Linked DNA regions of Homo sapiens. The protein of the gene in region 5 purifies or fractionates together with the protein of the main gene of each other region. This does not show direct contact. Each region holds a gene or a part of one and is shown on either strand. Other genes may lie near its edges. The genes, in order: BLMH, U2SURP, YAE1, SPTBN2, USP53, CASP14 and EXOSC10.

Region 1 (3,962 bases), on a different chromosome or scaffold from region 5:
AAGAATGGCCATAATTAAAAAGCAAAAAAATTACAGATGTTGGTGTGGATGTGGTGAAAAGGGAACACTTTTACAATGCTGGTGGGAATATAAACTAGTACAACCACTAAGGAAAACGGTATGGAGATTCCTTAAAGAACTAACGATCTACCATTCGATCCAGCAATCCCTCTACTGGGTATCTACCCAAAGGAAAAGAGGTCACTAAATGAAAAAGACACATGCACACGCATGCTTATAGCAGCACAATTCACAACTACAAAAACATGGAACCAACCTAAGTGCCCATCAACCAACGAGTGGATAAAGAAAATGTGATATTTATACATCATGGAATATTATACTCGGCCATAAAAAGGAAAAAAATAATGTATTTTGTAGCAACTTCGATGGAGCTGGAGGCCATGATTCTAAATGAAGTAACTCAGGAATGGAAAACCAAATATCATATGTTCTCACTTATATAAGTTGGAGCTAAACTATGAGGATGCAAAGGCATAAGAATGATATAATGGACTTTGGGCACTCAGGATGGAAGAGTGGGAGGGGTGGAGGGATAAAACAAAGACAACATACCAGTGTACACTGCTTAGGTGCTGGGTGCACCAAAGTCCCAGAAATCACCACTAAAGAACTTATCCATGTAACCAAAACCCACCTGTTCCCCAAAAACTACTGAAAGTTAAAAAAACAAAAACAAACAAATCTGTTCTTTCAGGAACAGATCTCCAAAAAACTTAAATGGGAAAAAAATGCTTTACCCGAGCCATTGCTAATAAGAAGAGCAAAATTAAAGTGAGAGACTGAAGTCCGTATATTTAAAACAAGAATGGGCTGCTGGGCCACAGACAGAACACAGAGCAAACGATGTGTACTGAATCAAGAGAAAGGCAGGCACACACATCCAAGGGCTCCCGGACTAGCAATGGCCATCAGCACCACGACTGTCATCTGACCGTATCTGCTACTTGTTTTATAGTAAACACTGGAGCCATTTTTCTCTGAAAGTTTGTATAAACCTAGGCCTGTGCTATACCATTTCCCACTACACAGGACCAAGAGAACGGAGAAGTAGGTGTTTCTAGCAAGAGGGTCCCCTAGTGAGCAGTTCTCATAAACCTAGGCCTGTGCTATACCATTTCCCACTACACAGGACCAAGAGAACGGAGAAGTAGGTGTTTCTAGCAAGAGGGTCCCCTAGTGAGCAGTTCTCAAGCCTCTTGGCCTCAAGCCCTGCCCTTTACATTCTTAAAATTATTAGGGACCGAAAACATTCTTTATGTGGACTAATATCTATCATTATTTACTATATCAGAAACTAAAACAGAAAGTTAAAAATATTAATTCATTTAAAAATAAGTATGAAAAATGAATATAAACAATATATTTTGAGGAAAAAAATTATATTATGTAAAAAAATATTTTTAGTTAAAAAAGTGGCATTGTTTTACATTTTAATGTCTAGATTTGCAGAAGACAGCTGAATTCCTGTATCTGCATCTGTGTTTAATCTGTTGCAGTATGTTGTTCTGCTTGAAGCAGATGAAGGAAATCCAGCCTCACACAGATATGTTGCTCAAGGGCAGACCCTGCACACTCCCTGAAAGGGCCCTAGGGAACCAAAGATCACACTTTGAGAACTGCTGCTCTTGAGGCAAGACTGGATTAAATTTAAAGGCAACAATACTGGTAAGTCTAATTTTGTATGCTAAAAGGTGTGACAAAGGGCATTATTTAACCTGAAAACACAATTGATTTGGTGAAGTCATCTATGCCCAATCCTGTTTTTCACCCGACAGAAGTCAAAGACAGATCATCCTGACGTGGCATAGCATACGTTTACCCTCAAAAACACTGTGGAGGCCAGGTGCAGTGGCTCACACCTATAATTTCAGCACTTTAGGAGGCCGAGGCAGGTGGATTGCTTGAGCCCAGTTGTTCAAGACCAGCCTGGGCAACATGGCGAAACCCCATCCTCACAAAAAAAAAAAAAAAAAAAAAAAAAATTAGCTGGTGTGGTGGCCTGAGCCTGTGGTTTCAGTGAGCCAAGATCACACCACTGCACTCTAGCCTAAACAGAGTGAGACCCTGTCTTGGGGGTGGGAATGGTAGGGGTTGGGAGTGCTCTGTAAAAGTGTTCAAGTGCTCCGACCAAGGCAGGTAAAGGAATGCACTCTTGTCTCCTGATAAGCTGGCCTCCTGGATCCAGGGCCCCTACTTTCAATAGACGAGAGACGGAAGGACAGTACAGGCCCACTCTGTAGCTACTTCTGGCTTGTCTTGATTATATATTCCAAACTTCCTGGCTTTGTTGGTGTCAGGACCTGGCCCTTAATTAACATCACCCACACCAGTGCCACCAGGTTCTAGCAACAAAAGTTCTGTCCGCTCAAAGGTCAACCAGTGCGTATTATTTAAAACTAAAATACTGCATCCTAAGTGAGTGCTTCCTGAAAAACTAAGCATCTGCCTTCCCAAAAAGGAGCTTTCAGCAAGCAGGAGAGCAGACTAGGGAACACCACACTGTTTGAGACATTAGTCGTCCCTTCCCTCACCACAATGCAGGCTGAATAAATCACTGCAGTGGCCCTGGGCAGTTAGGCAGGTGAAGGATAGAAGCAGATTCATGTAATAAAATTCTGTGTCCTTTCAACAATACTATCACCATACAATCAAATGAATCTTCAAAGAATGCTCCCAGAAGATGGACAATAAGTACATCTACACTATCTTGTTCCAAAAGCATATCAGATTAAGTCCTCACAAATTAAAATTCCTATCAATTGTAACCCACCCTTTCAATGTCCCTGCCAAGAGGACCCGCCTTGATTAGTCTCTCTCTTCAGGATATGAGTTCTTTGGGGACCCACAAAAACCTCACAGTCTAGGTAGCTGCCAAGTAATTGCGCCCTATGTAGATAATGAACTTGTGGCTGCCGTAACTGTTGACACTGTGTGTCTTGGAGTTTGACTGAGAAGATTAGGATCAGTGTGTCTGAAACCTGTGTAGGAAGCAGCAAAGCACCGGCTCAGGCAGGATTCGGCTGGCCCTTTTGACTTGCGGGAAGGTGCAGCTCCTAACCCTTAGACACACTGGCCGTGAGACACAAGCATTCCAAGGAAAAAAGAAAAGAAAACAAAATAAAAACCTGCTCCAGGGATCCCAAGGTTACACTGAGTGAAACACAGACAAATAGATAAAGTCAGCTTTAGGAACTAAGGTGAAATTAAATTTTGTTTAAACTTTAATGTCTTGTTTACATGCGATGAGAAAGAAAGAAAAGTGAACAGTCCTCAAAACAAAACACCTCAAACCAACCAACCAACCAAAAAACACTGGCAACGTTTCTGTATTTTGTAACAGAAAGGGTAGGGTCAGTCTGTAAAGGGAAAAACAGTGTCTGTGAATATAGCTGTAGACAGGTTAGGTGAAATTCATTCAGAAACAGAAGAGTTTCAAATGGGCTAGTTTAAGGGAAAAAAGACGCTTTACCTAAGAAAACTTTTTTTTCTGAAATCCCACCAGAAATGTAAGATTTAAGCCTTTCAGACTAAAGAATACAAAGAATATAAAATATATTTTAACATATTAGAAACATTTTATATTCTTTGTTGTCTTTGTTCTATGAGGAATTTCACCTCACTAACAAACTGTATGTGGCTATTATTTTTTGCCATTTTTAAAAAAGTTATGACAAAATGAAGGTATCTGTTCTGCTCTGACGGTCTGTCTGGCAGCATGGAACTAAGAAGCTGGACTACCAAGGCCTCATTCAGTCACTGCCAATCTTTCACCTGGCAGCTATAACTCAAGGTTGAAGAAAGGCTCCCAGAAAGGAAAGCAGAAGCCTCACTGGCACTTGTCTTATATTTCAAGCTTCCTAATCATCAGGGAGAAACCATTTCACAGAACAGGAATCACTTTATAATGAAGTTGCAAAGACTGTGTAGCAACATGAAGA
Region 2 (4,341 bases), on a different chromosome or scaffold from region 5:
ACGTGGGTTGCAACAGTAAGGCCAATTAGGAAGATCCTGCAGGAGTGAAAGTGAAAACATAATAGCTTGACTAGCATGGCAGAATTAAACATTAAGGATTCAGTAATTATTTAGGAGGTAAAAAAGAAAAAAAACAACAGAATGGTGATGTATATCTGCTATCATGTGATGCATCTTTTCATGCACATATTTTACTTATATAGCTATCTTTAACAAAATAAAGTCATGCTATACATATTGCTCTATTACTTGCTTATTTTCTACTATTAACAATATATCATAACTCTTATATCATTAAATAAAAAAAACACTCACCAATTTTCACATAAGGACACAAGACAGAGAATTCCTGTTACATGTAATTTTGACTTCTGGGTTCCAGCAATAAAAATCCACTACTTAATGGTAAGCAATAGATATTTTTCACAAAGAAATGTACCTCACATATGTAACACAGAACAACTCCAAGAAACCTCCACCCCAGAAACGAATTTTAAAAACAACCAGACAAATACAGACTGCCTACCTCTGTTTCCTTTTCTTCAATAATATTTACAAGTCCTAAGAAAATATTTTGTAGTTTGATCAAAAATGGTTCTGGATAAATTGCCCAATCTTCCCATGCTCTGAAGCAAGTCATTACCCGTTGCTAAAGAAACAGGAAACAGACAACAAACTTTTATTTTGGGCTATATGTCTCAAATTTCAGTTCATGAGAATGATCATCAAGATTTGCTAAATTTGCCTTTAAACTGATGTTTTTTTAAACTTTAAAGAAAATAACTATATATCATTACCATATTTTTTAAAAAAATCAATGTCACCTTCTAATTAAAAGGAAAAAAACCCCTAAAAATAAATATAATGAAAAATAAACAGTAACTATTTGCTCTTTACCACCTAAGGTCAGCTCCCATACCATTAGTACTACCCATGAGCCACATTCCAGAAACACTTACATAGAAACTTACTAAAACTGGAAACCAAAGTAGCCAAGTTTTGACCTGAATCCCTTATGGTCCAATAAAGTACTTCCTAATTCTGGCTAATACTTTACTCTGTATCTTCCTGAAACTTGTCTTTAAATTCTAACTTATGGTCAAAATTTAAGGTCAAAAACTTTTAAAATGGGAGTTGTCTGAATGCCCTAAATGGTGGCGTCACTGGGCATCTTCCGAAACTAAAAATTTTTCTTAAAAAAGTCTTCTTCCCATGAAAGCATATTTACTTATTCAATTATAAGTGAAGTACTACACTTGGCTTTTCTTAACACTGGTCTAGAGCTTAAGAGGTTATAAAAAAATTGGTAACAGAATAGACTTTCTAAACATGATTAAAATGTATGTCTTTAATCCAGCCAAATAGTATATACCATTACAAAACAAGTGATTCTTCTGTATGTTTTATGAAAAAAGACTAACATTTATAATTTTTAAACAATATTTAAAACTAAAATTAAACCTGACAAAATAGTATCTTTTAAATTTTTGATTTGATAAAAACAAAAACGACAGAATTTTAAAACAGTAACTTCTGTAACATCTAAGTTTTAAATTTATGTCTCATACTTGTCTTATGCACTTTTCTAGCCCTTCAATGCCCTCCCCCCACCCATTTAAAACACTAGGGCAAAAATAGTAAAACAATAAACGTACCTTAAAGTTTTCAGATTGTAAATGGCCTTGAATTGTACGATAGGTGGCATTGAGGTCTGAAAATATCTGACATAACTTTGTTTCAAAACTGAAATTCAAATAACACATTCTTTAAAATAAAATGTTTAAAATTCCTTTCCCTTTTAGCATGCCAGCCAATGAAAACCCCTCCTGAACTTAAAATACTTACAAATCAAGAAATTATTAAAAATCAAAAACTAGGTGTTTAAACTCTAAAACCGTAACTGAATTGCTTGAACTCTTATTACTCTGAATTTTTCTCCTACAAACTCCCCAACAGTCCCTACTAGTTCCCTTTACGAGCAAGAAACGTTATATCTAGGATATGCTGAACCATCTCGTCCAATTTCTTTATTTTATAAAACAGAAAACTTAGAAAAGTGACTCGTCCAAGGCAAAAAAACTAATAGCAGACCTAAGAGTAGGATCCAGCTCTCTAAATTTCTTTTCAGAGCAACATCCTAGGGAAAAGCTTCCCTTTGCCTAATTCATAAAATAAACACAGAAAGAGAGCTCTGGGGAACAGAGGAAAAGTTATACTTTTTTTTTTTTGAGATGGAGTTTTGCTCGTCACCCAAGCTAGAGGACAATGGTGCCATCTCGGCTCACTGCAACCTCCGCCTCCCGGGTTCAAGCGATTCTCCTGCCTCAGCTTCCCGAGTAGCTGGGATTACAGAGGCACACCACCACGCCCAGCTAATCTTTGTATTTTTACTAGAGATGGGGTTTCACCACGTTGGCCAGGGTGGTCTCGAACTTCTGACCTCAGGTAATCAGCCCTTCTTGGCCTCCCAAAGTGCTGAGATTACAGGCGTGAGCCACTGTGCCCAGCTGAATTATACATTAATTATAATACAGCAACGTAACTTCCTTTTGCCTTAGGAAACATTTACAATGAACTAAAATCAATATGCTGAGGATCAGAAGAGAACACAGATTCTATAGTTAATAGTATGTCTTTGGTCTCTTATGTTTGCCAGTATATACACTGTTTCTATTTATTATATGAATAGCTAGATATGCAATAAAGTTCTCTTTAACACCTATTTGTTATACTGTCAATAGCTAAGAAAGTGATATGATATAAAATCTTTCCAAAAAATTGGTAATTTAGCTTAAGTGTAAGCCAATTTTTTAAAAAATTCTACAAACCATTAAGAAATTCAAATTAGTCTTCCCTCAGTATCCATGGGGGGACTGGTTCCAAGACCTCCCATGGACACCAAAATCCACAGATGCTCAAGTTCCTGATTGAAAATGGCATAATATTCACCTGTAACCTATCCTCATCCTCCCATCTGTTAAATCATCTCTAGGTTACTTACAATACCTAATACAATGTAAATGCTATGTAGAGTTTTCATACTATATTGTTTAGAAAATGACAAGGAAAAAAGTCTGTACAGGTTCGGTACAGATACAATTTTTCTTCTCAAATATTTTCAATTCATGGTTGGTTGAATTCATGGATAAGGAACCCACAGACATGGAGGGCTGACTGTACTTCTTATTCTTGCAGGATGTTAACAAAACAATCCTCTTTTCTGAACTCCTTACCCTTAAATACTTTATTTCAGGAATATCAGTTATATCATTATACTTACAATTTTCTATAATATGAAGCATTAGCAACTTTGGCTGAAGAGTTGTACAAAACATCAGAAACCAAATATAATCTGGCAATCTATAATATCAAAAGATAACACAAAATAGGTTAATATAAGGCTAATGTTTAGCTATAATTTAATTATGGCTACTAATTAGAAGAGTTATATGAAGCTCAGTATCACCACAACTATGACTCTGGCAGAGATGAAATTTGTTAACCCATTTACATTTCAACTTGTTTGTTAACTTGTATGTTAATGAACCTAAATTTCCAAGCAGAAATAACATAAGACTGCATGGGAAAAATCTCATCAGTCAAGTGCTTTGTGCAAAAAGGAAACCAATTCTAATCCCAAAAGACGTCAACTATCTCCCCTTTTCTTAAAATTCATTCCCATACCTTTTTAGGAAGGGGTGTCTTTAAGATGGACAACGACTCAGTAATGCAATCCACTATTTCTTCAGCAGCTTCAGCATTATTAAGACAGAAAACCATTGCATCTCCAATATCATTTTTCCTTGGAGTTAATCCCCGCAAGATTTCTTCCAATTTATCCCTCTGTCTGAACATAAATTGTTTTAACTTATAAATATTTAGATACAATTTCAAATGCCATTGTAGCTTTTGCTCACAAACTAATTTCTTTAAAACCTACTCACATAAAATAATTCTGAAGACTGTAATACATTCAGTCTGATTTGTGTTGTGTCCCCCAAAATTGTTACAATTTTTTGAAGAATTTATATAAGAATACTCTGTAGAATAAGATTCCAATTATGTTTTCAGCTTACAAATTAAGTAAATTTAAAATCATACGCATTTCTTCAAGCGTCTTTAAGAGCACCCCAGTCTTACCATCCCATGATACTGAAGAACTTTCATGTTCTTTACTCCCCTTCTTTGAAGGAAGTCTATTACTTTAACACTTCTGCCTGGGATTACGACAGGCTAATTTTTTCTGTAAAGGAAAAGACTGGCTGGGTGCGGTGGCTCATGCCTGTAATCCCAGCACTCTGGGAGGCCAAGGTAGGCGGATCACAAGGTCAAGAGATCAAG
Region 3 (4,819 bases), on a different chromosome or scaffold from region 5:
GCACTGGTATCTTCAGCGGGGGTTTTAATAAATCCTGAAACTCAATATGGCTTTCTGATTTTAAATCTGTTGCTTCAATTTCTTAATGTTCTTCTGTGAACTTTGAGGAGGGTCATAGTACAGTGTACATTTTTAATCTCTTGAAAAGATATACTTTGTCAGATTCTTCATCTCAATATGCCTGTCTTTCAGCTTAGATGGTAGGTATAAATAGGGGTGAAAGAGCAATTAAGGCTACCAATGAGGGACAATTATTTCAGTGCCTTTGAAGTCAGGTATCTCATATAAACTTGTGTTTCAGGTGAATAAAAGTGCTGAGAAATCCTCTCCTGATTCTGAGTTTAGATCCTGGAGTAAAAATTTGAATCTAATTTTGTCCATGCTAGACTAAGAATATTACCTCAAGGTAATATAGAAGTCAGTGGTTTCAGTGTTTTACTCCTATGTGAATATGAAATATACTGCAGTTTAAAATAATCTGGCACACTGTTAGGCAATATTACTAACTCCTTACTACTTAGAAAAACTAAGTAGGCATTTTCCTTAGACTTTAGCATAAAATATATTTTCTATGTTTTTCATAAAACTGAATGTCCTTACTTTTAATTAACACAAAACTAAAACACATTTTAGTATTTTGCTGTTAACCATTTAATCAACAGCATAAACACTGCTTCAGTTTCTCACAGTCTCTTAATTTCAATATATATCTACATATCTATATCTATATATCTGTCTGTGTGTCTATATTTACGTTAACTATTAAGTTATTTTTATAACTTTGGTTTGGTGAGGTCCTGACCACCTAATAGTGACAGGAGGTAGAAGTAGGGGTAGGTCCTTACAAAATATGTTTAATTCTTGTTCACTTTTGCTAATGAGTCTGAAAACACTTCATTTTGACCACAAGTTTGGAAATGTCAATGACAGTAGAAATTTCTGACCATATCTTAAAACTACATAAAAATTACCAGTGACAAAGAAAAAAGGCTTATATTACATTTAATAGTGTTAATTTTGAAGACAATAGTGTTAATTTCAAACTTCCATAAAGGGTAACCCTACAGTTGAGGTGTTTGATGCAGAAACCAGTACAAATTTCGATTGTTAGGAAACCAAATGTTCTGAACATTATTTTCATTAGAAAAGGGAAGGTAATTTTATAGTTGTTTGAGGTGTTGTAATACATCTACTGATAGGCCCAGCTGTTTAACTAAACTGGCTGTCTGTTCCAAAATCCATGTGGGGCTTGGGTTTTCTGAATGTGCATGCTCCTGTGTTCTACAACATTCTACATATGAACAATCTATCCCACTATGGCTCTTGCTACAGTTTTTGTTAAACTCAGCATTATTTTCACAGAGTCTTTCATCTTTAGCTTCATCAATCTTTTTCTCAGCTGGAACTACATGACAAAGGTCCATATCCTCAATGGAGTCCAATAAATCTACAACATGGGACGGTGGAGTGATTGATTTCAGATGTTTGAGCACATACTCTTCACACTGGCCAACTGCATCCAGAAGATTGTTTATTTTATTGATCAAAGTTGAATTATTATTATGAAGGTGACACCAGGAGAGCAAAGCACTGAACAAAAGTATAAACAAGGGTTAAATAGCAAAATAGGACTTAAAAATATAAGACTATCTTTCAATAACAATTAAACGATTGGACTTAATCATAAAACTGTTTATAATTCATAACCCCTCTTTCATAACTCTATATACGCTTTTCCTGATTTTATATTTTTCTCTTATGACTATGTAATATCTGTTGAAGATGAATACAACTCCGAGAAAGAAAAATTAGTTTCTTCTTTAAGGACATTAAACAGCTTCTTAACTAGCAATTCTCAATCATGGATGCACATTAGAATCACCTGAAGAGCTCTGACCCCTATCAAGGCCCAGATTATACTCCACACCAATTAAATCAGAATCTCAGGGGGTATCTTTTTTTTAAGTTTCAGAGTTAAGGTGCAACCAAAGTTGAAAACCATCGTTCTAAGCACATAGTTGCTTGCCATCAAGAATGAAGGTTAGAGAAAAGAAGTTTTCAAGAGACTTCACTTTCCTGGGCTTATGTCACAGAGTAGAAACTGTTTGCTGAACTACTAACAATTTCCTTGAAAAAGGTAAAAATTCTTCTAGTCCTAACAGATTTAATATTATAGTCATGTCATAAAATAATGATTATTATGAAAAGTATTTAAAAATAGAATCCATTGATATAAAAGATTCAGCAGTAGCTTTCTAAGGTTATGTAACATCAACTTGATGATGTGAATATTCACATTGTTTTCCTACTGTAGCAGACTAAATTCTGGTTCCTAATAGTTGGATTTTCTAAAATCCCAAATACAATAAATTTTTCGGTTTGTTTTGGTAACTTTTATCATCTACTCTTCTTTAAAATTAGCGATTCTTTGAAGCATTTTTTTTTTCTCTACCAAGGACAGTGTAAAGGGTATAAAGCAGGGGTGTCCAATCTTTTGGCTTTCCTGGGCCACATTGGAAGAACTGTCTTGGGCCACACATAAAATACATTAACACTAATGATAGCTGATGAGTTAAAAAAAAAAAAAAAAGAAAAAAGAAAAAATATCATGAAAAAAATTTCATAATGCTCATATTGTTTTAAGAAAGTTTATGAATTTGTGTTGGGCCATATTCAAAGCCGTCCTGGGCCACATGTGATATGCAGGCCACTGGTTGGACAAGCTTGGTATAGAGCATCAAACTGGACAAGGCTGCTAGGCTCCTGGCTCTGTGTATCATTTGACCATTTGGCTCCGATATATGCCATTATTGCAATGGCATCCTGACAAGTATTCAATGTTCAGGACTAAAGTAAATTAAATCAATTTTATCTTAATTACCAACTATTTTCATCATGTACTTCTAGTCTAGAGGTCTGTCATACTGTGTGGAAGTACTACAAGTTTTATTCAAAATCTGAAGACCTTTCAATGAGATAGATAATTGTTCAGGTAGCAGAAGTATACATCTTCTTACCATTTCTTTGCACGAAAAGACAATATGTAGTTCACACATTAAAGTAGATGAGCTGATAAAGATTTTGACTTTTTGAAGGCAATATAATTCTATGATCTGCGACACGCTTTAGTGTATTTAGCACCAGGAAAAGCATTTCAGTTTAAACACTTTATTTATACAGAAACATCCTCCAGTAGTATTGAGGTTAAAATGATTCAGCATTTAGACTTTAAAAATTACCTCAATGTTCCTCGGAGTCGTCCATAGTTTAAAATGACTTCTGCACCTTTCTTATAACCTTGATTGAAGCCCTGTTGAAGAGTAACTGCTTTGCCAGCATCTATTCCATCTCTATAACCTTCCTAAAAATAAGTAATGGAGAAGTGCAGCTGTAACTAAGTATATACATGTAGGCTTTTCTAGAAAAGTACAGAACCAATTTAGAAAGCAGATGAATTAGGCCTTTACTGTGTTACTGACCATAATATGGCATAACAATATAACTAAAGCAGACTATGCTTCTCCTAAGTTTATTATTGGTTTATCATTACTTATCCCACTTTTGAAGTCTAGAGTTACCGGGCAATTTTTAAAACACTGATAGTCACAGTTTTTAAAAAACCTAGTGTTGGGCCGCCACGCTTGCTGTGAGGTGGGCAAGCGGCAGACATGGCACCCTCCAGGAGTCTTGCAGTTCCGCTGGCAGTCCTGGTACTGTTGCTTGGGGGTGCTCCCTGGACCCACAGGCGGCAGAGCAACGTACGCATCATCACAGACAAGAACTGGAGAGAGCTGCTGGAAGGAGGCTGGATGATACAATTTTATGCCCCGTGGTGCCCTGCTTGTCAAAACCATTAACCGGAATGGGAAAGTTTTGCTGAATGGGGAGAAGATCTGAGGTTAATGTTGTGAAAGTAGATGTCACAGAGCAGCCAGGACTGACTGGACAGTTTACAATAACTGTTCTTCCTACTATTTATCATTGTAAAGATGGTGAATTTAGGCATCCTCAGGGTCCAAGGACTCAGAAGGACTTCATAAACTTTATAAGTGATAAAGAGTGGAAGAGTATTGAACCCGTTTCATCATGGTTTGTTTCAGGTTCTGTTCAGATGAGTAGTACGTCAGCACTCTTTCAGCTATCTACGTGGATCAGGACTTGCCATAACTACTTTATTGAAGACATTGGATTGCCAGTGTGGGGATCATATGCTGTTTTTCCTTTAGCAACTCTGCATTCTGGACTGTTACTAGGACTCTGTATGATATTTGTGGCAGGTTGCCTTTGTCCTTCAGAAAGGCACACACCACAGCCATACCCTTCAAAAAAATTATCAGAATCTGCTCAACCTTTGAAAAAACTGGAGGAAGAACAAGAGGCGGATAAAGAAGATGTTTCAGAAGAAGAAGCCAAAAGTAAAGAAGGAACAAAGACTTTCCACAGAATGCCATAACACAACACTCTCTGGGTCCATCACTGGTCACAGATAAATTGTATAGTTATCTTAATATCATGATTTTGATAAAAACAGAAGACTGATTATTTCTTTTGGTTTGAAGTGAACTGTGACTTGCTTGTATATTACAGCATTCAGTCTAGATTGTCATTAAATTGAAGACTCTACATTCAGAACATAAAAGCACTAGGTATGTAAGTTTGAAATATGATTTAAGGACAGTATGGTGGTTTAACTAGTTCTCTAATTTTTGAAAAATCTTGCCAAACAATAAGATTTATGTATATTTGTTTAATAATAACCTGTTTCAAATCTGAGTTTTGAAAATTTACATTTCCCCAGTATTGCATTATTGGGGTACTT
Region 4 (4,341 bases), on a different chromosome or scaffold from region 5:
TGGAGCCCTCTTGGGTGTCCTAGGACTTCCAGTTCTGCTCCCATCTTTAGGCCACGGTCTTCACACCCTCTGGTCCTCCCCTGAGGCCCCGCTCTGGTCCCAAGTCCTACCCTTTGCCCAGAAGATGTACTCTAAAGGGCATCCCTCCCTCTATCTGGGCAGAGGCTCTGGGGAAGTGCCCTCTGAGAGCAGGCTCCAGAGAGGCTGTACCTGTTGGCAGCCTTCTTCCCGAAGGCCTCCATCTCCTGCTTGCGGCACAGCATCCCCTCCATCTGCTCCTGGGCAGATGGCTCTGGGCCTCGAGGCGGCAGGGTGGCAGCATGGGCTGACTCGGTAGACCTGCTCTGGGGCATTGCAGATGGGGCCGGGCCCCGAGTCCGGGTCTGCCTCTCTCCCCGGGGCCCATTGGCTTCGTCCCCTGAGCCAGGTCCCTGGGGGGGAATCAGTGTCAGTGTCAAAGGTTGAGACGGGAGATCCCTAACCTGGGTGCCAGGAAGCTCCGTGTCCAGGAGTTGGTCTTCCTGCCCCCAAGCTGCCTGTGAGCCTCTGCCCTCTCCCATCCCATCCCCAGTACTCCCCCACCCGCACTCACCACCCCCTCTGGACCCTTCGCCTCACAGTTATCAACACCACACTTGCAGGGGAACTCACCGGCCCTTCGGGGAAGCTGCTGTGCTCAAGTCTCTGTTGTCCCAGCAGGGGCTGCAAGGACAAGAATCTGTAAAAGGATGTGCGGGGGTGGAGGGGCTACGACTCCGATGGGGGCACAGAGGGACAGTGGGGTCACCTGTGAGGGCTCTCCATCTGTGCAGACTCCATTAACACTGGGTGCTTGTGTGGATGGTGGTGGCCGTGGCTGGGTTCTGGGATGACCAAAGGCAACACAGAATCATTAGTCCCTGGGTGGCCTGGGCTCAGCCGCCTCCTCCTACCCAGGCATCCTGGCTCTCACCCGTCCCAGGTGGTGTCAGAAGCTGTCTGGCCGCCCACCAGGTCCCCTGGAGGCACACTGGCTGTGGGTTCGGGAGCAGGCGGCTGTTTCCGCCGCTCCTCCTCCTCCCTCTTTCTCTTTCGCTCCTTCTCCCGCTCCTCTAGCTGTCAAAAAATGCTGCATTCAGCGTGTAGAAGGTTGCGTGTAAGAGGGCCAGGGAAACAGGGAGAGCTGAAATGTCTCAACTCTAATTTGATGAAATATGATAAGAGGAGAACAGAATTTGAGAAGATGGTGGGGACAAGAAACAAAGCGGGAGAAGGTGTCTCGGCATCACCCAGGGGAACTGACACCTCCTAAAGGTGTGGTGACAATGGCACTCTCAGCTCACATCTGGGGGCCACTGGTGCAGTGGGAAGAGAGAAGACATGTCTTCTCCAAGCAGAAGCCAGCACAGGTCAGGGGAGCAGGTTGGAGTGGGCATCCGGGGTCCTGTGTCCCTCACCGCAGTAAGCTTCTCCAGCGCACAGAATCGCTCCTCCCAGGCCACTGCTGACTTCTGGAAGGCCTCGTGCCGCTTGATGAGGCTCTCAACTTCGTCGACCGTGCAACCCAGCTCAGCGCTGCGCACCAGTGGCTCCTGGCTGCAGAGCCAGGCCTCTGCCATCCCTGCATCTCTTCCAAACACAAGCACCTCCAAAACTGGCAGGATCGGGGGTTGCAGGAAGATGGTGGGTCAGAGTGGCCACTGGCAGGGCACAGTGGCCATGGCAACCTCAAGAACAGGGACACAGAGAAAGCCACTGCCCCAGAGCTGTGCCAGGCAGCACGAAGATTGGGCATCGTGAGTTTCACACCCAGGGTTCCTAGTCTCACCTACTCTGGAACCCACAGGGTGCAGGATGCCCCCCACTCCCCACAGGGCCTGGGGCCCCCTTGGCAGCTCACCCAGCTGAAGCCAGTCCATCTTCTCCTGCCACTTCTCAGCTGTCTCCTGGCGCCGTGCCTGCAGCTGAGACAGCTTCTCTGAGATCTGGGGGCGGGGGGCAGAGATATGAGTTAGCACCAGGATGTGAGATCTTTCCACGGCCCCTGGGGAGTCATCCAGGGGGACAGGTGATTTCTTTCTTTCTTTCTTTTTTTTGAGACGGAGTTTCGCTCTTATCACCAAGGCTGGAATGCAGTGGCGCAATCTCAGCTCACTGCAACCTCCACCTCCCAGGTTCAAGCAATTCTCCTGCCTCAGCCTCCGAGTAGCTGGGATTACAGGTGCCCGCCACCACGCCCGGCTAATTTTTGTGTTTTTAGTGGAAACGGGGTTTCACCATGTTTCATCACAGCCCAGCCACACAACCCATGGAGGCCAGGCTGGTCTCGAACTCGTGACCTCAGGTGATCTGCCCGCCTGGGCCTCCCAAAGTGCTGGGATTACAGGCGTGAGCCACCATGCCTGGCCCAGGACCAGTGATTTCTGATGTCAAGAGGCAGACGGTTCTGGGGAGAGATTTCCAGAATGCGAGAAACCCGTGAATGGCACTGAGGGGAGAGAATGAAAGGTTTCTTGCAAAGAGAGAATGAGAGGAAGCAGAAAGCCACCAAGAAGTCAGCGTTCAGCACTGCACAGTGAGAATGGCCCGGCCACCCAGGCCTCACCCACCTCCTCGGCCGCATAGTGGCTCCTGGCCAGCAGCTCCTTCCCCATGTCGATGCAGGAGGAGAAGCGGTCTGCCCGGGCCTCTATCTCTGCCTTGATGCCTTGCTGGTTCTTGATGACTAGATCCGCGGAGGACACATCCCTGGGGGGAGGCAGAAACAGCATCACCTGCTGCCCACAGCCCCATCACAGCCCAGCCACACAACCCGTGGAGGCCCTGAGCCCTGGGATTCTCACCGGGGACGCTCCTGGGCATCCATCTGCAGGTTGACCTCATCCATCCAGAGCATCAGTTCCCGGACAGCCTTGAAGAAGCGGAACTTGTCTGTGGTGTCCAGCAGCAGCTGCCGGCGGGCGGCAGAGCTTCCCTGAAGCTGGGCCCAGGCCTCGGCCACGGCCTGCATGTGGCGGCCGATCTCCTCAGCCTTGTCTCCAGCGTAGGCCTTCTGGAGCCGGTGGCCGTCGTCCTGCACCTGCTGGACCTGCGGAGCCCCGGGTCAGAGTCAGGCAGAGCGGGGGACTCCAAGGAGCCGCAGCCTGCCTCAGTCCTGGCTGCCACTCTCACCTCCTGCCTGTCTCACAGCCAAAGAAGCAGGGGGAGGAGCCAGGGAGTGGGGGTGCTGGGAAAGATGAAGGCAGGGGCTGGCCACACTCTGCCCTGTTGGGTCTCATCTAGACACCTGGGCTTAACTGGGGGAGGATCTGGAAAAGAGCCATTGGCCAGTTGAACTTTCAGAGGCCTGTCTAGGATGTGATAGACCTTGGAGATTGCTAGAACGTGCTACTTAGCCTGAAAAGGGGATTCAGGCAGGGGCTGATGGGTTCTAGTGGTTGAAGGAAGGATCCATGCTTACTGAGTGTGAGCCTAGAGCTCAAGCCTGGGAAGCACTAACAGGCTGATTTAGCGCAGCATGAAGAGTCTCCTGGCCACTGGGAACCCCTGAAGACATCATGGGCTCTCAAGGGGGCTTGTCATCAAAAGTGTGAATGCAGTGGCTAGATGTCCCCTGCCAGAGATGTTTTCTTTCTTTTTGAGACGGAGTTTCGCTCTTGTTGCCCAGGCTGGAGTGCAGTGGAGGGATCTCAGCTCACTGCAACCTCCGCCTCCTGGGTTCAAGTGATTCTCCTGCCTCAGCCTCCTGAGTAGCTAGGATTACAGGCATGCGCCACCATGCCTGGCTAATTTTGTATTTTTAGTAGAGAAGGGGTTTCTCCATGTTGGTCAGGCTGGTCTCGAACTCCCAATCTCAGATGATCCGCCCTCCTCGGCCTCCCAAAGTGCTGGGATTACAGGCGAGAGCCACCGCGCCTGGCCAAACAGAGATGTTTTCTTGGAGCAATTTCCTCATCTCGAAATGGCCCTCGAAAGAGTGCCGTCCTCCCAGCATTTCTGAGCTCTACCCTAGCTCCTGGGAACTCTCCCCGGCATTTCCCCCATGGCCTCCTCTAAGCCTCCCCCACCTCCTCATGCTTGGGTCAGACCTGGGGGCTGAGGGCCTGAATGTCATGCTCGTAGGCACAGTGTCGGCGCTGCAGGGCCTCGGCAGCGTTGAGGTCGCGGCCAGTCCCGTCCGGAAGCTGCTGCTGCTTGTGCTGCACCCGCGCCAGGGCTTGGCGTGCCCCGTGCAGGAAGCGCTGCAGCTCGTACGCCGCGGCCAGCACCTGACCCCGTGTGTCCAGCAGCTCAAGCAGGTCAGCCCAGGCCTCGTTGAGACTGTCCTTCCACTCGGCCACGGTGGCCCGTGCAGCATGGCCC
Region 5 (4,341 bases):
GTTTTGAGAAAGAGAGAGAGACAGAAAGAAAAGAAAAGAAAGGAAATAAGTCACTGCTGTTTTCTTATGAGTCAGTGCTTTACCAGCAATAATTTTATCCTAAAAGGCAAGATTCCAGGGCCACTCTCCTTCATTACCCTAGACAAGACTATCAAACTATCTTTTCTCCTTCCAAAACTTAAGCCCAATACATAATTAGTTAGGTAATCTTCACCATGCTATATAAATTATTTAACAGGTGTTTTCCCCCAAAAGGGGATGACACTATATGGAATTTGTTCAAATTCTAACATCCAATAACTTTATCAGGCTACTAGAATGGTCTGGGTAAATGATAATGGCATCTTAAACCTGATTCATTATACCTATTATGGGTTGAATTGTGTCTCCCAAAAACATATGTCCAAGTCCCAGACCTATGAATGTCAATGTATTTGGCAACAGGGTATTTGAAAATGTTATCAGATTAAGATGAGGTCACTGGGGTGGACCCTAATCCAATGTGACTGGTAGCAGTCATTATAAGAAGAGAAAGAGAGAGAATGATGACAGAGGCAGAGGCTGGAAGGATGAAGCTGCAAGTCAAGGAACACCAAAGATGAACAGCCACTGCCAGAAGTTAGGAAGGGGCAAGGAAAGATTCTATTCAGAGCCCTCAGTTGGAACCAATCCTGCTGACACCTGGATTTTGGACTTCTAGTTCCAGAACTGTGAGAGAATAAATTTCTGTCATTTAAGCCACCCAGTTTGTGGTTCTTTGTTACAACAGCCCTAGGAAACTAATATAATAGTTGATAAAGCCATGAGACTCTTTGTTCTTTTATGTGTATGGATTTTTTTGATTATCAAACAGTACTTGTTCATTAGATTTCTGAAATACCACAGAAATACTACATAAAGAAAATTAGAAATATCCATAATTCCATATTAGCACAGAATCACTGCAAATATGTTCTTAATAGTACACAGTCCTAGCCATCAAACTGTAAAGTAAAACTTCATATTAACATCTTTTCACTAACAATATAGCACCTCAAAGATACACTGAGGACTTTCTGATGATATGCTACAACTGCTCATCTTACTAGAAGTATTTAAGATTTTATTTTAGATAACTAGATAGCAAACAGAAGAGTTATACCAAGTTGAAGTAATACAAAAAAACTCTTCATCTTCAAGTAGATAGTGTCAGAAAAAAGAAAAAATATATCTTTCATTACAGAAGTAACTGTGTTTATAAAGCTAAAGGATTATAGTAAGGAAGGTATAATTGAAGAATAAATATTCTTTGATGTGTAAAACCATTGTCACTCTAGAAATGGAGGAATTAGAGAAGACTACAGTAGAAAATTTATAAAACACAGAAAATAAAATTAATAAGAAAAAAGACTATAATACTGCCAACAAAAAAACAGTAAGTTTTAAGTAATTTTCAATGTTTCCACTTTTTTGCTCTATTTCTTTGTGTCTAACAAAAAACCGTGCTATATTTCATGTTGCTTTTACCTATTCACTAGTTTCCACTAGTAACTAACTAGCAAAAGACAAGCATACACATGTATCCAGAATATAGGACATGGTCATTAAAGAAAATGGCTTACAGCAGTCTACTTTTAAGACATGATCTCCAGAAGAAAATTATGTCAAGCCAGCAATAACCTAACATTTATTTGCCTTGACAAAGCCCCAGACTGAACTCTTACTTTATCTATACCTTCCTCCCCATCTCAGCCAATGGCAACTTTATCTTTCCAGTTGCTGAGAACAAATATCTTGATGTCATCTTTGACTCCTTTTTCTGTCATATTTCAGGATCTGACCACTTTTCACCACCTCCACTTCAACAATTCTAGTCTTGGCCATCATCACATCTTGTGTGGATTAAAAAAATAGCAGCTTGTCTCCTGGCTTCTACCCTTTACACAGTAACATATAAGTCTATTCTGGAGAGCAGACAGAGATCTTTCTAAAATTAAATCATAATGTCACTATCTGCCCAGCCCCTCATCTAACTACTTGACCTTTGGCTTTCCCATTCCAGCCACATCAGCCTCCTTCTCATTCCTGCACACTATACAAACTTCTGTTCTCTATATTGTTTGCACTGGCCATTCCCCTGCCTGGAATACATTCCCCCCATAACGCCCACATGGCTTTGCCCTCCCTCCCTTCATAATTGCTTTGCCAAAAAAGTCACTTAAATGAGGCCTACACTTATTTAAAATTGCAAACCATCACAATCTCTACCACGCTTTCCAAATTCCTCTTACCTTGTTCTACTTTTTCATTCCTCCTTGGCACTTTTCTCCTTCTAAATATATTATAGAATTGACTGCTTATTCTTTATTGTCTCTTCTCCAAATCCACTTAGAATGTAAAGCAAATCCCAAGCATCTAGAACAGAACACAGTGCATGGTTAAGTTTTCATCAAATATTTATTAAAGGAAGCTCAGGAAACAAAGTAAAATCTCAAACAACAAACCCTTTGGAAAAAACAGTGTTCCTAACAAAGACAACCTAGGCACTAAAGTATAGGACAATTTCCTACCATCTGGCAGGTAGGTCAGTGTCAGTACTACACTGACAAAGGAGGAGCATTATCTCATGCCTATATGGTAGCATCATATAGGAGGAAAAATTTAGGGCTCAATCTGCTCACCTAAGTATGGGGAGGGGCACCATGAGAGGGGCAACAGTTTATTATGCAGGCTGAGGAGTTAAGAAAAAGCCAAAGAATGAGGTATCTGATGGGCAAAGAATACCCTGATGGCTTCTTGACAAGGATGGAATCCATACCCTGATAGTGACCTTATAATTCCCATAGATATTTTATTCCTCCTCTGATATAAAGTTTACAACACATTGCTCAACTACTCAATCATTAAAAATCTATCAGTTTCATCATCTATAATCAAAATCATAGGGCTACTGTGAGAATCATAAACCATGTATAAAATACCTAATAAATGGCCAAAACATAGGCATTCAACGAATGCAGGCTAATTATAATAACATTATCTTCCACGTAAAATGATTTTTAACAATGTCAACAAGGATTTAGAAAAAAGCAGACGCTGTATTATATATTTTATACTCCATTTTGCTATCTTTAAGGAAATACCTTAAACTGATATATTAAACTTAACCATTGCTTTAATTCAGATTAATGAGATCAGATAAATTGTTCAATGAAATATCAATTTCTTAATTTTAAAATTTTAGTAGCTGTTCTTAGTAAATCATAAGCAATTTTGTTACGGAGCTATCCTAGTTTAAGAATATCTAGCATATGAAAAACCTAATTTATAAAATGAATGTTTGGGAATACTTCACATTATAAGTGGATTTTCACCACAGAATTGTTGTAAATATTCATTTACAAAACCTTTCTGGACTAGAAAGGAGAGAAGGAGAAAATGAGTTAAAATGTTAACAGCCAATGGATCAGAAAGAAAGATAAAGTGACTGAAGTAAGTGTCAGCAACAGAGACTTGATTTAGAAATTTTCAACCAAAGTATAAGTTTTCAGAAAAATAACTACTTAATGATTTTTTTTTTTTTTTAGACAGAGTCTCACTCGGTCGCCCAGGATGTAGAGCAACGGCACAATCTCAGCTAACTGCAACCTCCGCCTCTTGGGTTCAAGTGATTCTCCTGCCTCAGCCTCCTTAGTAGCTGGGACCACAGGTGTGCACCACCACGCCTGGCTAATTTTTGTATTTTTTAGTACAGATAGGGTTTCACCATGTTGGCCAGGGTGGTCTCAATCTCCTGGCCTCAAGTGATCCGCCTGCCTCAGCCTCCCAAAGTGCTAGGATTACAGGCGTGAGCCACAGCACCCAGCCAACATTGTCTAATTAACTTTTGACTTTCTAGTGTTTAGCACTATGCCTAGCATACAATAGGAGGTCAATAATGTTTATTCAATACTTCTAACTCAGAAAAGCGCAGCAGTAAAAAACTTCCAAAGGAAGGGTATTTCTTAAAACTTCTTTTTTGTAATATGTGTAAAATTGAAAACTAATGTTATCTTCAAATTAATTCAAAAATACCATGACACCTCAAATAACTGATTTTGTTCATAAAAATAGCTAAGATATTGGAATAAGGTTTATTTTGCAGAAAAAATTCTGATGAACTGCAGAGTATATGAAGCAACTCTTCTGAAGTCTCATGTAAAATCATAATTCTTTAGCCAGATGCAATGGTTTGTAGCCTTTTCTTGTATCATGGACATCTTTGGTGGCCTAATGAAGCCCCCTATGAATAATGTTTGTAAATGAACAAAATAAAATTCATAGCATAAAAAAAAGAAAAAGAAAAAAAAATACTAAGATCAC
Region 6 (3,998 bases), on a different chromosome or scaffold from region 5:
GGAATCCTTGGCTGGGCATTTTTTAAATAATTTGCAATAAAAACATATAAACATTAAAAGAAAACAGTTTGCCCAAACATTGTTTATATCCAAGGGGGATTTGTTTATAGAAATTTATCTCCCATACTGTGGCTTTTAAGAGTCCCTGCATTTGGGAAAGTTGTTGGAAAGTGGGCTTCTTAGTTTCTGTATTGAGATCTGGCTTGGATTTGGAGCTGAGGGAAATGGAGAGGGGTTAGGAGGAGGCTCAGCCCCCTCCGCCTGCACCCTTCTTGGCCTGGGCGGTGGTCCCAGCTACCTTTTGTCAACTCACCTCTGTCAGAAGTTCCAAGATATGTCCTTTCCTCTTCGTGAACACATCCACCAGGGTCTGGATAAAGCATGAGCCTTTCTGATCATGTCGGTAGGCGATGTATCCTGGGAATTCCAGAGAGGTGGGTTCGGGGGAGCTTCAGAGGGTAGGTAGAGGGGATCCTGGAAGGGCGTGGGTCCTGGAGGAGAGGTTCAGGAGTTGGGAGTGGCAGGAGAGGGGGAAGAGCAGAGGGATCCCTGGGCCAGCTGGGAGCTCATACCCTCTACCGTGGAATAAACGTGCAAGGCATCTGTGTATGTTGGGATGGTTTGTGGGCTGTCTTTGATGACCATCACAATCTCATCTCCACCTACTGTTTCACCGGGGTCCCTTTGTTCTGAAACAACAAGAAGAGGAGGAGGCAAAGTCAGAGAGAAAGGTAAGGAAAGGGGCTGGGCAGGGTGGCTCACACCTGTATTCCCAGTGTTTTGGGGGGCTGAAGCAGGAGGATCACTTGAACCTGGGAGCTTGAGGCTGCAGTGAGCCATGATTGCACCACTACACTCTAGCCTGGGAGACAGAGCGAGATGTCGCCTCTTAAAAAGAAAGGTAAGGGCTGGGCACGGTGGCTCACACCTGTAATCCCAGCACTTTGGGAGGCTGAGGAAGGCAGATCACCTGAGGTCAGGAGTTTGAGACCAGCCTGACCAACATGGTCAAATCCCATCTCTACTAAAAATACAAAAATTAGCCAGGCATGGTGGCTTGCACCTGTAATCCCAGCTACTTGGGAGGCTGAGGCAGAAGAATTGCTTGAACCTGGGAGGTGGGGGTTGCAGTGAGCCAAGATTGTGCCATCGCACTCCAGCCTGGGTGACAGAGCAAGACTCCGTCTAAAAAAAAAAAAAAAAAAAGGATGCTTTTGTGGTATGCCATGTGCAGTGGGGCTTTTTAATTTAATTTAACTTTTTAGAGACAGGGGCTTGCTTTGTTGCCCAGGCTGGAGTGCAATGGTGTAATCATAGCTCACTGCAGCCTCTTAACTCCTGGGCTCAAGTGATCCTCCTACTTCAGCCTCCTGAGTAGCTAGGACCACAGGCCCATGCCACCATGCCCTTGGCTAATCTTTAATATTTTTCATAGAGCTGGGTTCTTGTTACATTGCTCGACGCTAGTCTTGAACTCCTGGCCTCAAAAAATCTTCCCGCCTGGGCCTCCCAAAGTACTGGAATTACAGGCATGAGCCATGGTGCCTGGCTTCAGCTGGGGCTTTGGATCTGGGACTGGCTTGGATAAAAACACAGACTTGGTTGGGCATGGTGGGAGGCTGAGGCAGGAGGATTGCTTGAGCTCAGGAGTTTGAGACCAGCCTGGGCAACATAATCAGACCCTGTCTACAAAAATTAGCCTGACATAGTGGCGGGAGCCTGTAGTCTCAGCTACTCAGGAGGCTGAGGCAGGAGGACGGCTGGAGCCTGGGAGATGGAGATTGCAGTGAGTTGAGATTCCGCCACTGCATTCCAGCCTGGGTGCTGTCTCAAAAAACAAAACAGAAACAACAAACCACAGACTCTGTGCTCTTGGATCTGTCCCCACCTCCTCGACAGGCCTGTATGATGTACACCTTGGGCTTAGCTCGCAGGGCCTGGCAGTTCTTGTTGTTCAGGGCCTCGAAGAGATTCTCCAGCTTGACCATCTCCCCATCTTCTCCCTTGAGGAAGCCTTCCCTCCCGTGAGCCATGAGTACCACGAAGGCACAACTGACGGGATCTTCCCGGGAATCGATGGCCTGCTGGAATTTTTCCAGCTCTTCCTGGAATTGCTGGAGTGAGAGGAAGAACCAGACTCAGCTGGGTCCCCATAGCCTACACTTCCAACCTAGTACCTTTCCCCCAAACAGGCCTGGAGTAGGCACCCCAATACCTCGGCAGTGGGGTCTCTTTTCATGGTGCTTTCGAATCTCAGCTGCCGAAACATGTGTTCCAGAGCATCCAGGTCTTCTTCGGAACCTTCCCGGGCTTTGGTGACACACAGTATTAGGGCCAGGCGGGCACCTGACATATCATATTTCTCCTGGGGCCAAGAGAAGACAGAAATCAGCATGGAGAGGTTCAAGGAGAAGCAGATGTAGTCAAAAGAGGCATGCAGGCTGGGTGTGGTGGCTCATGCCTGTGATCCCAGCACTTTGGGAGGCCGAGGTGGGAGGATTGCTTGAGCCCAAGAGTTCGAGACCAGCCTGGGCAACATAGTGAGACTCTGTCTCTACAAAAAATGAAAAATATAGCTGGGTGTGCTGCTGTGCATCTGTGGTCCCAGCTACTTTGGAGGCTGAAGTGGGAGGATAGCTTGAGCCTGGGAAGTTGAGGCTGCAGTGAACTATGATCTTGTCACTGCACTCCAGCCTGGGCAATAAGTGAGACCCTGTCTCAAAAATGAACAAACAAAACAAGAGAGGCTTGGGCTTAGGGTTGCCAGGTATAATAGAAGATGCTCAGGTACACTTAAATTTCAAATAAAAACCAAATACCTTTTTAGTATAAGTATATCCCAAATATTGCATGGGATATACTTATACTACATAATTATTTGTTGTTGATGTGAAATTCAAATTGAATTGGGTGTCCTTTATTTTTAGTTCCCAAATACAGCAACCCAACCTGGGGTCCAGCTCTTTTCTAGCTTGGTATGAACTTGGGGGAAGTCACTGCTCCCATCTGAGCCTCAGTTTCCAAATATAGACAATGAGTGTGTGTGTGATTTTGAAGATCCCTTCCAGTTGTCGTATTTTGTGGATTTGCAGGTCTCCTCATCCTCCCCAAGAGTGTTCTGAGCATTCCTCTATTACCTCCTCACTTGCAGAGGTCTCAGAGTTTCTGAAGCTAATACTGAGATCCCGTCTGAGGAAGAAGAATATTGGGGGTCAACAGTTCTTTCCAGAACAGAAGCAGCGTACTGAGCACCCCAGTGGTAAGAACTTCATCTTTTAAAAAATCAACATGAAATTGTTTATTGCAGGACTTCTCAGAACCTTTAATGTGTTGAGAAGAACTTGATCTTTGGAGACAGAGGTAGCTGTGTTTGACTGCCCCCACCACCCAACCCAACTTCGGTTCCATCTCTGAGTCTTTTTTTGCTGTTTGATTGACTACAAAGTACCTCCTAGCTCTGAGTTCAGATCATGATTTTTTCAGTCCCTCCACTCTTTCCAAAACATTAAAATCCTCACCTTCCTTCTCCCCAGATGATCACCCTCCCCTCAACCTGCACCCAGCCTACCTCTTCCAAAGACCGCGGATTGCTCATTTCTCCTTTGGTTGTGAGTCCCGGCTCTCAGCACCCTTGTCTGATCCTTGGAGTCAAGAGAAGATAGGTTAAAGTTCTCTAAAGGGAGGCCGAGGGGCTCAGGGGACAAACTGGCTTATGTATCTGGATTTTTGAGACCAAATAGCACTCAAGTGGTGGGGATTTGGTCTGTGGACAGATCTGGGCAATAGATGATAATCCATGAAGTAGTAATATATCACCCCTAGAATGACAATTTCACGATGTCTTCCATTTCTGGATGTCTTCTTCAGAACTGCTGAGCCTACCCCACAATGTCCCCCACTCCGCCCCCAAAAACTTCCTGTGTCTCCCGTGGGTCATTCACCAGCTTCTGGTGGACTGAACTTCCCCTGAAAGCCCTGGAATGAGGAGCAGGGCAAGT
Region 7 (4,341 bases), on a different chromosome or scaffold from region 5:
ATCAAGACACACACACTGGATTTCCTAAGCCCTATTATTTCCCTAGGGTTGTTTAGAATGCAGACCAGCTCATGAATCTAGGAAGCCACAAGGAATAAGACACTAGCAGAAAAAACAGGCCTGCTAAAGTTGGGCATGATGGCTCACGCCTGTAATCCCAGCACTTTGGGAGGCCCAGGTGGTGGATCACCTGAGGTCAGGAGTTCGAGACCAGCCTGGCCAACATGGTGAAACCCCGCCTCTACTAAAAATACAAAATTAGCCAGGCGTGGTGGTGCATGCCTGTAATCCCAGCGACTCAGGAGGTTGAGTCAGGAGAACTGCTTGAATCCAGGAGGCGGAGGTTGCAGTGAGCCGAGATCATGCCACTGCACTCCAGCCTGGAGACAGAGCGAGACTCCGTCTAAAAAAAACAAAAAACAAACAAACAAAAAAAAAACAGGCTTGCTAAGTTGGGACCCTTCAGTAGAAAATCTTTTTTTTTTTTTTTGAGACGGAGTCTCGCTCTGCCTCCCAGGCTAGAGTGCAGTGGCGCGATCTCGGCTCACTGCAACCTCCGCCTCCCGGATTCAAGCAATTCTCCTGCCTCAGCCTCCGGAGTAGCTGGGATTACAGGCGTGCACCACACGCCTGGCTAATTTTTTGTATTTTTAGTAGAGACGGGGTTTCACCATGTTGGCCAGGCTGGTCTCGAACTCCTGACCTGAAATGATCCAGCCACCTCAGCCTCCCAAAGTGCTGAGATTATAGGCGTGAGCCACTGTGCCCAGCCGCAGAAAAGCTTCTTACCTTGAGCAGGGGCATCTCTCGGGCCTGCTGGATTAAAAGGTGCATTTCGTTGATCTGCTGCCGCACAAGGGGCGGTACTGGGTTGCAGCAAGCTATGATGCCCTGAGGTTCCCTGAAGACAAGTAAGAACACACTCAACTTGTCACTCAGAAACGCAGCCCTTAAAGGCTTCCAGATAAGAATAATGACTGGGTAAAGCCAGGCTGCCACCTAAGCTGAAGCTACAGGTAGGTGACTAAGGAAACACTGATGTCAGGCCAGCCTAGGCCAACTTCTCCATGTGTTCTTTGCGACACCAAGCTTTAAGTGGATCCCTCTTGGAGCCTGACTCCCACAATCAGGGAGAGCTGAAAGTAAGTGCCATAGCACTGTGGATTCTCAATTCCGCAGGGGGCAACCAACGGGCTGTGGATTTTCATTCTTGCTTATACTTCAATCAAGATCACAAAACGTTTAAGATCATGAGCTGCTTTAATTTGGAAGAAAGTACAGATGACAGAATCTGGGACATTTTCTTCCCTTGCAAGTAGATGCTATAAGGCTCAGAGACTTAAAATAAACTCAAACTAAGGCATAATCATTGAAATGATTCCAGTTCAGAAGTTTTAGTGCTTAAATGGCAGCCTGAGGGCAGAAATTCTATATTCCTTCAACTTGCTACCTTCCAAGCTTGGAGCATTAATCTCTGAGTAAGCAGCCTTGGGTAATAGCAACCAGAAAAGCTTGATTTTGAAGAACATCAGATCTACTGAGAAAGTCAGAACATATTAATCAGATTTGAAACTCACTTAGGCAGTTCTTCAGCTATTTTCAGCATCATGTGGTTTGGCAGTACATATCTGGAAAAAAAAAAACACACACACACACACACACACACACACACACACACACACACGGTGGGGACACATTACATTCAGCCAGTAAGTTCCATTAGATGCTGTCACATAGGGGAAATAACCAGCTTTCATAGCAAAAGAAAAAAGCCCATTATTTACTTGTTATTAGATCTCCTCAGTCTGGAAACAAGTATTAAAAGAACCTCTAATCCCTTACCCGTAACTTTCATCTTCCCTGCGAGCTGTTTTATCCCTCCAGGCAAACAGCAGCTGAAAGGCTGTCAACTGCTGTGTGTTAAGGTGCTTCTTCTGCTTCCTATAGAGTTCAAGGTAGGACTCATCCGTGAAGATAGGTTTGATGAATTTCTACAAAGTATTAGAGAACATTCAAAATCAACGGGAATCAAAATTGTGCCCTGGGCTCTGGAAAATGTTTGGCTCTTTTCATGAATGTAAGGAGCAAACCTAAGAACTAGAACCTGGCCAGACACAGAGCCCAAGTGTCGCGGTCTGTGTGACTGCGGCTGAGGTGTACCTTGAGGCAGATGTCCCTGCTCCGTTGCCACACCACCTGCAGCTGCACCGGCTGCCCGTTGCCGCGCTCCCACATCTCCAGCCTCATTTTGTCATAGATATATAGCAGGTAATGGGTGTCATCCCGGGCGTAGCTGAGCATCTCCTCGGGCAGAGGGCTGGAATTGCAGAGGACAATGTTTTACTGATTGCCCCCAAGGACAGCAATTCAATTTGTCTATTCCTTGGGTGCTGGGACTTCCTTAGACCCTTCCAATATGAAAGATCCTTTCATAGTCAATACTGCAGTTATGCCAACATTTCCTGCATTTTAACATGATAAACCATTATTTTAACAGCTGGGTAGAATTGGAGGCAGGGTAATGCGGTGGTTAAAATAAGGGCACTGTCAGCTACTCTGGACACACACAAGAGGCAGTAGAAAAGGGGCCACTGGTGTCCTGAGTTCAAATCTCAGCTCCAGATGTCTGTCCTTGGACAAGTTCCTTAACCTCTTTGGGCTGACCCACCTAACTTGTGAAATGGGAACCAGGTACTTCATAGGCTGTTGTGAGGACTACACAGGACCACATCCTTGAAGCACTTAGCCCAGAGCTTGGCACAGGGTAAGGGCTCCGTAACAGGGAGTGGTTTTTAGATTTTATCAATTTTTATCTTTTATTTGGATTTTATCAGTCCAAATGTAATTTTACTTTTATATTTAGAAATTCTGGCATTCTGGGCCAGGCGCGGTGGCTCACGCCTGTAATCCCAGCACTTTGGGAGGCGGAGGCGGGAGGATCACCTGAGGTCAGGAGTTTGAGACCAGTCTGACCAACATGGAGAAACCTCGTCTCTACTGGAAATACAAAATTAGCTGGGCGTGGTGGTGCACGCCTGTAATCCTAGCTACTCAGGAGGCTGAGGCAGGAGAATTGCTTGAACCCGGGAGGCAGAGGTTGTGGTGAGCCGAGATCGCGCCATTGCACTCCAGCCTGGGCAACAGTGAAACTGCATCTCAAAAAAAAAAAAAGAAAAAAAGAAATTCTGGCATTCTGGCATGTGGAATTCCTGAAAAAGCTCAGTAGCACCTTCCTATGACAGGTGCAACCTCGGAGAGGTAGCAACCAAGCGGAAAACGACCAAGCTGAGCAAGGCCTGCAGGAAGTGGGGCAAAACTGCTACCTTATGCCACAAAAAAACGCTCAGTGTAAAGCTAAACAACAGTGTCCCTTAGAATTCTTTCCCACCTATGGAAGGTCATCTTGCACACACACACACACACACAATCATCCCTACAGAAGATCTTACACACACACAAAATCATCTGGTAGAAAGATCCCAGTTTCAAACAAAAGACCAGCATGGGCAAATACTGGTGCGGCACCTCTTTTTCAACCACTATTTCCATGGAACACAGTGTAACTGCATCAGCCCATCATAAAGTCCACCTTAGCATTAAAAAATTTCCTACCACTTTTACGCTGCTGAAGATGCCTGGCGAAAAGCCTGATGCCATTCATCTCAATGAGCGTGGTAGGGCTCAAACCCAGGTCTCTCTGGACGACAGGTTAATGAATAATCACTTTCTTCTGCCACCCACATTTCCTCAGTAAGAGCAAACTGACCGTATTCTCCAATCAGCCAGCTGATATTGCTTGTTTGAGTCCACGTTGCAGTAGAGTTTCAGGAGATGATCGAGTGAGTGCCTGCCCAGGTTAAGAAGGCGTGCTGCCTGATGAGTATCAAACATGTTTACTACATACAACCCAAAGTCTTTCTGTAGCCATTCTATGTCTGAATCAGCACCATGAAAGACCTGAAAACAGAACCAAAGTCATGCAGTACACTGGTAGCAGGCCACTCATGCTCAGAAATTAACTCTGCCTCTAGTTTATTAGAACACTGAAATTAGAAGGTAGTCTCCGCTGTCCCATCTGTAGTGCAGTGGTGTGATCTTGGCTCACTGCAACTTCCGCCTCCCATGCTCCAGCAATCCTCCCACCTCAGCCTCCCAAGTAGTTGGGACTACAGCGTGCCACCACGCCCAGCTAAACTTTGGTATTTTTTGTAGAGACGGGGTTTCACTATGTTCCCCAGGCTGGTCTCAATCTCCTGGGCTCAAGTGATCCTCCTGCCTCAGCTCCCCAAAATGCTGGGATTACAGGCCTGAGCCACCTCACCTGGCTGAAGCCAATGTTCT

What was found.
Region 1: the proteins of USP53 (region 5) and BLMH purify together in Homo sapiens (affinity purification with mass spectrometry; one large-scale study listed by BioGRID and IntAct). This does not show direct contact.
Region 2: the proteins of USP53 (region 5) and U2SURP purify together in Homo sapiens (affinity purification with mass spectrometry, with the first as the bait; one study listed by BioGRID). This does not show direct contact.
Region 3: the proteins of USP53 (region 5) and YAE1 purify together in Homo sapiens (affinity purification with mass spectrometry; one large-scale study listed by BioGRID and IntAct). This does not show direct contact.
Region 4: the proteins of USP53 (region 5) and SPTBN2 purify together in Homo sapiens (affinity purification with mass spectrometry, with the first as the bait; one study listed by BioGRID). This does not show direct contact.
Region 6: the proteins of USP53 (region 5) and CASP14 purify together in Homo sapiens (affinity purification with mass spectrometry; one large-scale study listed by BioGRID and IntAct). This does not show direct contact.
Region 7: the proteins of USP53 (region 5) and EXOSC10 purify together in Homo sapiens (affinity purification with mass spectrometry, with the first as the bait; one study listed by BioGRID). This does not show direct contact.

Annotation. Positions count from the first base shown.
Region 1 is NC_000017.11:30,250,554-30,254,515, forward strand, and holds part of BLMH (bleomycin hydrolase), read right to left. Parts: intron 1,681-3,962; exon of another isoform or gene 1,521-1,680; intron 1-1,520. UniProt on the Homo sapiens protein: The normal physiological role of BLM hydrolase is unknown, but it catalyzes the inactivation of the antitumor drug BLM (a glycopeptide) by hydrolyzing the carboxamide bond of its B-aminoalaninamide moiety thus protecting normal and malignant cells from BLM toxicity.
Region 2 is NC_000003.12:143,032,290-143,036,630, reverse strand, and holds part of U2SURP (U2 snRNP-associated SURP motif-containing protein), read right to left. Parts: intron 3,848-4,341; coding exon 3,685-3,847; intron 3,361-3,684; coding exon 3,281-3,360; intron 1,744-3,280; coding exon 1,656-1,743; intron 650-1,655; coding exon 527-649; intron 1-526.
Region 3 is NC_000007.14:39,569,048-39,573,866, reverse strand, and holds the end of YAE1 (protein YAE1 homolog), read right to left. Parts: intron 3,362-4,819; coding exon 3,240-3,361; intron 1,591-3,239; coding exon 1,161-1,590; 3' UTR 986-1,160; downstream 1-985. UniProt on the Homo sapiens protein: The complex LTO1:YAE1 functions as a target specific adapter that probably recruits apo-ABCE1 to the cytosolic iron-sulfur protein assembly (CIA) complex machinery. May be required for biogenesis of the large ribosomal subunit and initiation of translation.
Region 4 is NC_000011.10:66,687,217-66,691,557, forward strand, and holds part of SPTBN2 (spectrin beta chain, non-erythrocytic 2), read right to left. Parts: coding exon 4,068-4,341; intron 3,068-4,067; coding exon 2,823-3,067; intron 2,728-2,822; coding exon 2,589-2,727; intron 1,965-2,588; coding exon 1,880-1,964; intron 1,634-1,879; coding exon 1,437-1,633; intron 1,096-1,436; coding exon 953-1,095; intron 864-952; coding exon 788-863; intron 703-787; coding exon 652-702; intron 432-651; coding exon 211-431; intron 1-210. UniProt on the Homo sapiens protein: Probably plays an important role in neuronal membrane skeleton.
Region 5 is NC_000004.12:119,215,603-119,219,943, reverse strand, and holds part of USP53 (ubiquitin carboxyl-terminal hydrolase 53), read right to left. Parts: intron 2,395-4,341; 5' UTR 2,271-2,394; intron 1-2,270. UniProt on the Homo sapiens protein: Deubiquitinase that mediates 'Lys-63'-linked deubiquitination of tight junction proteins, such as MARVELD2 and LSR, and which is involved in the survival of auditory hair cells and hearing.
Region 6 is NC_000019.10:15,051,849-15,055,846, reverse strand, and holds part of CASP14 (caspase-14 precursor), read right to left. Parts: intron 3,642-3,998; 5' UTR 3,596-3,641; coding exon 3,569-3,595; intron 2,366-3,568; coding exon 2,216-2,365; intron 2,115-2,215; coding exon 1,889-2,114; intron 690-1,888; coding exon 573-689; intron 492-572; coding exon of another isoform or gene 418-491; coding exon 314-417; intron 1-313. UniProt on the Homo sapiens protein: Non-apoptotic caspase involved in epidermal differentiation. Is the predominant caspase in epidermal stratum corneum. Seems to play a role in keratinocyte differentiation and is required for cornification.
Region 7 is NC_000001.11:11,078,922-11,083,262, forward strand, and holds part of EXOSC10 (exosome complex component 10), read right to left. Parts: intron 3,958-4,341; coding exon 3,767-3,957; intron 3,738-3,766; exon of another isoform or gene 3,613-3,737; intron 2,318-3,612; coding exon 2,161-2,317; intron 1,992-2,160; coding exon 1,843-1,991; intron 1,629-1,842; coding exon 1,578-1,628; intron 902-1,577; coding exon 790-901; intron 1-789. UniProt on the Homo sapiens protein: Catalytic component of the RNA exosome complex which has 3'->5' exoribonuclease activity and participates in a multitude of cellular RNA processing and degradation events.